Linked DNA regions of Homo sapiens: region 2 is linked to region 1. Evidence: fine-mapped expression QTL. A gene starts in region 1. The other region holds a variant in brackets. All regions are shown on one strand. Distances are from middle to middle.

Evidence for each region. PIP is the estimated chance that this variant, and not a neighbour inherited with it, causes the effect.
Region 2: its variant is the best candidate, but not a certain one, in a credible set for the expression of POLR2M in whole blood (INTERVAL, PIP 0.61).

What each region holds. Positions count from the first base shown.
Region 1 is chr15:57,704,377-57,708,777 of GRCh38, forward strand. It overlaps POLR2M (RNA polymerase II subunit M), which reads left to right and starts at 2,338. Exons shown (of 4, transcript NM_015532.5): 1 at 2,338-2,579; 2 at 4,338-4,401. The coding sequence starts at 2,467. It overlaps GCOM1 (GCOM1, MYZAP-POLR2M combined locus), which reads left to right. Exons shown (of 17, transcript NR_104371.3): 14 at 1,558-1,996; 15 at 4,338-4,401. RefSeq lists an enhancer at 2,233-2,452 and a silencer at 2,773-2,822.
Region 2 is chr15:57,683,196-57,687,596 of GRCh38, forward strand. It overlaps GCOM1 (GCOM1, MYZAP-POLR2M combined locus), which reads left to right. Exons shown (of 17, transcript NR_104371.3): 12 at 1,207-1,479. It overlaps MYZAP (myocardial zonula adherens protein), which reads left to right. Exons shown (of 13, transcript NM_001018100.5): 13 at 1,207-2,169. The coding sequence ends at 1,303. Among named protein-coding and RNA genes, the nearest start is that of POLR2M, 21 kb to the right of the region's middle. The variant CG/C (reference allele first, on the strand shown) is at 2,690.

The DNA of each region.
Region 1 (4,401 bases):
TTGGTTTGGAATAACATGGGAAGGTTCAGGGAGGAGGTGAGACTTCAGCCAAGACTTACAATTGGCAAGGGGAGAAGAGATAGCCTTCCACAAAAGGGTAACAGAAGGGGGCAAAATTCTGAGGCCTAAAAGAAAGGCATCCTTGCCTTGGGGACACCTGTGGCCTACAATCAGCACATGGGGAGTTCACTACTGTGGGAGAAATAAAGGCCTCCAGCTGGGGTCCAGGGGTGGGGTGAGGGAGGCTTGCGGGGTGCTTATCACTGTAAACCAAAAATAAAATTTGAAGGTCCGCCCTCAACCGTCTGAATGGACTTCCTCCTGTAGTCCAGGGTCCTCCAAATTTAACCTAAAAGACTGGCTTAGGCCATGATGGGAAGCTGAGGTCAGACATGCCTCATTATGCCCTTCTTTCTTTTAGAATCCAGGAAAAGCTACACAGCATTTAATATCAACACATATACCTTGAGTCTGATAAGAAACACAACTTACTTTCTCTGAAGCCTGCTAACTGGAGGCTTCATCTGCATGATAAAATTTCGGTCTCCACAAGTTCTTATGCTAACCTAGACATTCCTTTAAATCAATTACCAATCAGAAAAAAACTTAAATTTACCTATAACTTGGGAGCCCATCTTGCCCCACACCCGCTCTGCTTTGAGTTGTCCCACCTTTGTGGATTAAGCCAATGTTTATCTTAAATGTATTTGATTGATGTCTCATGTCTCCCTAAAATGTATAAAACCAAGCTGTGCACCAACCACCTTAGGCACGTGTTCTCAGGATCTCCTGAGGGCTGTGTCACGGGCCATGGTCACTCATATTTGGCACAGAATACATCTCTTCAACATTTTACGGAGTCTTTTTTTTTTTTTTTTGTCAGTACCACAGACAACCACCTGACTCGAGGACCTTACCTATTTCTCATTCAGCCAATGCTGCAGCACGTTATTAACGTCCTTGAAAGCAAGTCTTATACAGAGAAAACTTATTTTGATATATTAATGAATCTGATCAGAATGGACCAGATTGGGGGGATAGATAAATGGTTGCAATTGTGCTCCCTGGAATAGCTTTGGAGTTTACCTAGATCTTCTGTCTCTTTAGGACAGAGCTGCTTGTGTTTATATAGCATCTTACACAGGATTGAGACAACTTCAATTTCCTATATCAAAAAATCGGGGGAGGGCGGTGGGTTATGGGGGTGTTCAAACCTCCCAAGTGACATCTGCTGTGACTGCATGTCTTCCTACTCTTTCCACTGGGATGCACCTCTGGTAGCTGAACTATAACGAGAAGGTAAAAGCTGTGTCCAATACCTATTAAGCTGCCTTCTTCTCAACAGCTGGGGAGGTGGCGGGGGTGGGGGGGGGCGGAGGGAAGTCTTTTCAACAGTTTTACACATTTGGAAATAGGCCTAAAGTGAAGAAGGGGATTTTCAAATTGGTGTGTTGGAAAAGGGGCTGGGCTTTTGAGTTTGAAATCTGGTGCTGTCACTTACTGGTTTTGTGCCCTGGGAATATTTATTTCAGTTTTCATGCCTCTGTTTTTCTATAGGCAAAGTAGAAAATTCGAAAAGGTCCTCAACGAGTTTGTACAGCTGCTCCCACTCCCTCATCACCTCTTGTGGGCCTTTGGAAATGTATGTTGGAGGAGACATTTTGGATTGTTGCAATGACTTGGGAGTGCCATAGCACCTAGCAGGCAGAAGCCAGAAACACCAAATGTCTTAACAATGCTTGAGGCGGTGCTACAAATGAAGTCCTTCTCCAAATGCATTGAGCCCCAAGAAAAATCGCTGATTCTGAGGAACCTTCCAACTTTAACAATTTCAGGACGTCCCTAAGCTGAGCTAGGAGGCACCACGCACAGGCCGGAGGCACCACGCACAGGCCAGAGTCTCCCAAATCCTGTCCCGCACTCTCTCCCACCTTATTAATGGCCAGCTCATCTTTCAAGTTTCGACTTGAACCACTTCTCAGAGATATCTTCCCAGGTGCCCATCCCAACGTTACTATTATATCATAATTTGATTCTCCCTCCCCCCATCCCCCCGCCAACTCTGTAAACCCCAAGTATAACACAGGACGTTGCTATTTGTTGACTGACACATAGTGCTTGGTGAGGTCACGCTGGCGCTGAATACTTTTTGTATAAACCGACGAACAGCTGATGACCGCATGAATGCTCACACAAGGGGAAAGGGCGCCAAGCCAAGGAGCCGGCGTCATCCGACGTAACTTCCGCCCTTTAACGCTCCTGCGGACGCCCCCTTCTCCCAGTCCGTGTTTGTTTCCGGAATTTCAATAAAGCTCGATTCGGCTCGAAGAAGACCCCGTTCTTCCGGGAAAATGGCGACTCCCGCTCGTGCCCCGGAGTCACCGCCGTCCGCGGATCCGGCGCTAGTAGCGGGGCCTGCCGAGGAAGCCGAGTGCCCGCCGCCGCGCCAGCCTCAGCCCGCGCAGAATGTGCTCGCTGCCCCGCGGCTTCGAGCCCCAAGCTCCCGAGGACTTGGCGCAGCGGAGTTTGGTGGAGCTGCGGGAAATGTTGAAGCGCCAGGAGAGACTTTTGCGCAACGAGTAAGCTGGGGTCCCGCGGAGTCTCCGCCAGGCTCCTTCAGCTCGAGCTCCCTGGGCGCTCCCCTCCCCTCCCGCACTCTGTTCCCTTCCCTGGAAGGTGACTTTGACTCAGTCACATTCGCTTCAGTCCTACGGGCGAGTGGACGGAGGGCTTGCTGCGGCAGAGCCGTGCCTCTTCCTGGCCAGGCACGTATGCCTGCGAGGATAGCTCGGATTGAACGGCTACCTGGCGTTGCAGGGAGTTAGTAGCCCCTGGTCGGTTTTATTTACCCGGGGACTGTGGTGGTTCCATGAGTCTGCTTTCTAAACCCTTTTGTCGCCCGCACCCCTAACCCATAACAGATTGTCAGCTTCATCTCTGGATTCTAAGCTTACAGGAACCGTAGGAAATGGGAAGAGTGGGATATGAAGAGGGGTTTATTAGGCCGGGAAAGTTCGACCCTCATTCAGCTGGCTGGTTGAACGGATTTTAGCAAGGGAGCCACGTAATAAAAGTGATTTTGTTTTTTAGGCAGCTTTGTTCAGCAGCTTGTTGCAAAAGATGGTTTGAAGGAATAAAAAGCAGAAGACAGTAGAAGGATATTTTCAGAGAGACTTCCCACGAGACACTTGTAAGAAAGTGAGCTAGGAAGGGATTGGGAGAACTTTTAAGCATGGACTAATTTAAATGCAGTTGACAGAGATGGCTGAAGTTTCCAATCTATATGGAAGACCACTAGCAAAAATAGGAAAATTCAGGGAGAGGAATAGATCCAAGGTTGATTTTACTTAGGGTGTGCAGAGTTGAGAGGAGAGCAGGACAGACATTTGGTTAATCGAAAACCAAACACTTAAAAGCTGGAGAAGTAGTCATGAGGCTCAAGAAAGAGAGAACCCTGGAAAAATACAGAAAACAGGAATTTCAGCTGTAGAGTGTTGTTAATAGTTGAAATTGTGGGGATGAATGTAGTGTCAAAAAGAACAGAGGACTTAAGGTGTAATTTTTTCTTTCCATTTATTGTATAGTTAAAGAAAAGGGAATCAGAAAAGGAACTCTGTCATCCAGCAAAAGGGACAAATAAATAATTGGTTGGGATCAAGACATGTGTTTTGACCTTGTGAGAATAGGTTTTGAATGTATAGCAGTGAATTAACTTTTTGGTCTCAGGACTCCGTTATACTTTAAGAATTATTGACATCCCAAAGAGCTATTTTATGTGTTGTATCTAGCGAAATGTATTTACTTATCAGAAATACGTCTGAAGTCTTTAAAACATAAGCATACACAAGCACACATTCTATTCTAGAACAATGATGTCATCACATGCCATGTAGCCTCTGGAAAACTCCACTGTACCCATGCGAGAAAATGAGAGGGAAATAATATCTTAGTATTATTATGAAAGTAGTTTTGACCTAATAGGCCCATCCCCACACTCCACCCCATCCCCAAATTTTGGAGATTGCACTTTAATGACTGCTGGTTCTTGGAATGTCTTATGTGATTATTATATGCTTAAAATACTTTTGCTGAAATTCTAATTTGCTGAGACAAATGAGGCATATATTCCCTATTCTTCCTGCATTCCCTTGTTTTTTGGGCTATTTGGATAATGACCATTTTAATTGTTTTATTCTTGTTTTGGGGCAGTTAGAAATCAGATATTTGACTTAAAAATCAGCTTTTCTTTCTTTGAAGATAATGCCTTGCCTTTTTAATGTTATATCTCAAGTTAAAAAAATGGCTGTAATGTAATAGTATTCTTTTCCATTTGACAGAAAATTCATTTGCAAATTGCCCGACAAAGGTAAAAAGATCTTTGACTCTTTTGCCAAACTGAAA
Region 2 (4,401 bases), 21 kb before region 1:
TGCCGCCAACTACCAAGCTGCAGCCTGGCTGGGAAAGGAAAAATGTCCCGACCTCTTTGTCCTCTCATTCCCTGATCCCCTGCTACCACCTTGCAGTAGGCCAAAAGGAACTGAATTTGAAGGGCAAATGGATGCTGACTTTTCCGGGCCACAGAGTAGGGTGGAGAAGGGGCAGAGTAGGGCTGAATGGCAAAAGAAGAATGCCCAGCACAGCTGTTATGTCTCTGTTATAGTTCCTAACACAGTACATGAAAATTTTTTATGTACATATCTTTCCCACCAGGTGACAAGTCCCTTGAATGCATGTTTCATATTTTTCTGAACCATGGATGCCTAGTACAACCTTTACAGGTTGTTAAAAATAACTTTTTTATTTTTAACCTGTCGTAGTCTGTTCTGGCTGCCATAACAAAGTACCATAAACTAGTTAGCTTATAAACAACAGAAATTTTTTTCTCACAGTTCTGAAGGCTGGGATGTCTAAGACCAAGGTGCCAGCAGATCCAGTGTTTGGCAAGGACTTGCTTTCTGGTTCATGTATAGTGTCTTCTTGCTATGTCCTCACATAGCAGAAGGGATGATGATGAATATTTCTGGGGCCTCTCTTTTTTTTTTTGAGATGGAATTTAGCTCTTGTTGCCCAGGCTGGAGTGCAGTGGCATGAACTTGGCTTACTGCAACCTCTGCCTCCCGGGTTCAAGCAGTTCTTCTGCCTCAGCCTCCTGAGTAGCTGGGATTACAGGCATGTGCCATCATGCCCAGCTAATTTTGTATTTTTAGTAGAGACAGAGTTTCTCCATGTTGGTCAGGCTGGTCACGAACTCCCGACTTCAGGTGATCCCCCTGCCTCGGCCTTCCAAAGTGCTGGGATTACAGGCGTGAGCCACCACGCTGGGCCTGGGGCCTCTCTCATAAGGCCACTAATCCCATTCATGAGGGCTCCACCCTCATGACCTAATCACCTCCCAAAGTCCCCACCTCCTAATACATCACCTTAGGGGTTAGGATTTCAAAATATGAATTTGGGAAAACGTAAAGTCCATTGCAGGGCCTGTTTGTAATATTTAAGTGAAATATTAAGCTGCATTATTGTCTTTTTATTTTTAAACACTTAAACACCATTTTCTAGAGTTGTCTTACCATGTGAAGCATATGGGGGGTTTTGTTTTGTTTCATTTTCCTGACCTGCATTTTCTCATTTCTCAGCCAAACAGGCAGGACTCGTGAAATTGTGATGCCTTCTAGGAACTACACCCCATACACAAGAGTCCTGGAGTTAACCATGAAGAAAACTCTGACTTAGGCACTCAGAGGCATACACTTTTTACAGATGGACAAAAGCTCTGGAACCCTGTGGCTTCAAATCCTTTGGGAAGGGTGACTGTTGTTTCCCCTACACACAGTGTAAGCCGGAATGGGAATCGCTGAGGCTCTGATCCACTTCTAAGACAGGAAGGAAAGTGAAGGCAGAGTGAGCAGGTAAGAGAGGGATATACAAGGTCACATTTCAGACACCCACTCGGCATACCCTGCCGTACTGCATCATCATTTGTTTTCTTTGTAGACACTGAAATCCTATCAGGAGGATTCCTTCACAATGTATTTTATTTGCTAGACTTTGGTTGGGAGGGAAAAGGACATTAATTTGAAGTTTCATGTTATTCATGCCAGGATTGTTTGATAGAGCATGAAGGTTTTGTTTACCCATAAAAGTATTAGAGGCAGCGTTTCTCTGATACAGAGAGGCCTGTCCACAAGAAGCATGGGCACCCAGCCAAACTTGAACCTGGAAGGGAGGGTTCCCGGCCTGCAGGTGCTCTTTCCTCTTGGTCCCAAGCATCTGTGCAGGGTCGTGGGAGCCACACTGAGAGACTTGTGTGGGCCAGACAAGCTTCATTCTGATGCGCTAGTCCCTTGGTTTAATTTGTGCCTTATGCTTTCATTGGACCAGCTGAAATCACTGTATTTATTCAACTAGTGATTTTTTTTTCTTTCTCACTTTAACTTAAAGAGAATTTTATATGTCTTGGAAATTTAATAATTTAGTGTTCTCAGTATCAATTGGTGTTTTTGTTAAACGAATGAATCATCTGTTCATGCATGCTCTACTTTGATATTATAACCTATGTCACATGTGTTTAATAAATACCATATATTTTGTTCTACTAATGTTGTCTCTCTGTTTCATCCATGACCATGTAGAAGGGGCAGAGAGCAGATCAGGCTCTGGAATGAGTGTCAAAGTCAAATCACATGATCTTCCAGCCAGTACAATTCATACAAGCATCTGTAAACCATAAGATTGACTGTGTGTGTCGGGGGAGGGTGGGGGGCCTATCTGTCTTTTTAATTGCTGAACTTTAGTTAATACACCATGTGGAAAAAGCAAGATACCTTAATGATCACAAAGTACAAAAATAGATTTTACTTTTAAACCTTTCCTCAAACCTCCCACCCCTTACTGTCTCCACTTCCAAAAAACCAAAGAAATAAAAAAGTAAGAAAGCAAAGCAACTCAGTTAGATAAATCACTGTGAGTCAGAATCATGCTAAGAGGAAAATGTGCATTTGGGAGCCACATTTGTATTTAAACACTGTCCGTGGGACCTTGGGCGAGTCGTCAAGGCTCTCTGAATATTAGTTTCATCCTTTAAAAACCTCGGATTATCACACCTACTTGATAGGCTGA[CG/C]TGAGTGCCACATGAGGTCATTCCCACATAGGGAGTGGGCACTGCTAGGCACACAGGCAGTGATTGCTGTCATTCTGGAGGTTTTAGAGCACTGCTGATTGCTGGTTGAGTCTCACCACTGGAGGTATTCTAGCAGCAAAAAACCGTGTTCTGTGGCAGCCACCAAGAAGGAGCACTTAGAGAAAAAGCTGTCCTTAGGACCAGGAGATAGGGAAGCTGGACTCAGAGAGAGGCAGAGGGTTCTGGGAGCCCATCCCCCTGAAGAAACTGGTCTGGAAGCAGTTTCTAAGTGAAATGCAATGACTTAAAAAATGTCAATTTTAATGAGACCAAGGTAGAAATGAAAACTACTCTGCCAATACTTCCACATTCACTTCTTTCTCTCTCTCTTAAAACAAGCAAGGAAAAGAAAAACTTAGTAATTTTAAATTTAAAGGATACCAGGGACCATTCTGCAGCTCGGGCCTTTGTATTTTAAAATATATCTTCAACATATGGAAAATTCTAAACATGATTTGAACTACTCAAGAAGACTATTAAAGAGAGTTCCTAAATTGTACAGACTGAAACCGAAAGAAGCTGAGAGATAATCCTTCCAGATCCTTTGTCAACATTGACTCTAGTGCCCCCCAACCCTCCATCTAAAGGACTGACATTCATCAACCTCTTCATGAGCAGGGGTATTACATAAAATTGGGAGAATGAACTCTAACATTTCATAGTAAATTTATCTCACTGAAATGGAAAGCAGCAGTGTATGTAAAGGGTTTTTAAAAAATAAAACAACATCCTATAATCTTCCAATTAATATCTTCATTCCAGACCTTCCAGAATTTTAAAACACACCCGCTCCATTTTGTTTTTAAAATAAATATAACCCTATACTGAGAAGTGGAATCATGTGATTTTTAAGAACGTGGGAACACTCGAGTCAGCTATCTGAGCTTAGTCACTAGTGCGCATGTGGGTAAGTCACAACCCTGTCTGAGGGCCTGTAAAATTGGAACTGTGAGAGTTCTTTCCTAATGGGGTTGGTGTGAAGAGTAAATGAGTTAATGCCTGCATGGTTCTTAGAATAGTGCTTGGCACATGATAAGCACTTAATATATGCTACCTATTAACATTACATACTTTTGTAGCCACTTTTTGCTTACTTTATATATATATAAATATATATATACACACACTTTATATAGTTTGCTTTATATATATACTTTATATATAGTAAGTTTGCTTACTTTATATATATACATATAATATATATTTTTGCTTATTTTATATGTATATATACTTTATATATGCATATAATATATATGTATACAATATACATAATATATATTATACACATATATGTATACAATATACACATATATTATACACATATATGTATACAATATACACATATATATTATATAATATATGTGTACAATATACACATATATATTATATATAATATATGTGTACAATATACACATATATATTATATATAATATATGTGTACAATATACACATATATATTATATATAATATGTGTGTACAATATACACATATATATAATATGTGTGTACAATATACACATATATATAATATGTGTGTACAATATACACATATATATGTGTGTACAATATACACATATATATGTGTGTACAATATACACATATATATGTGTGTACAATATACACATATATATGTGTGTACAATATACACATAT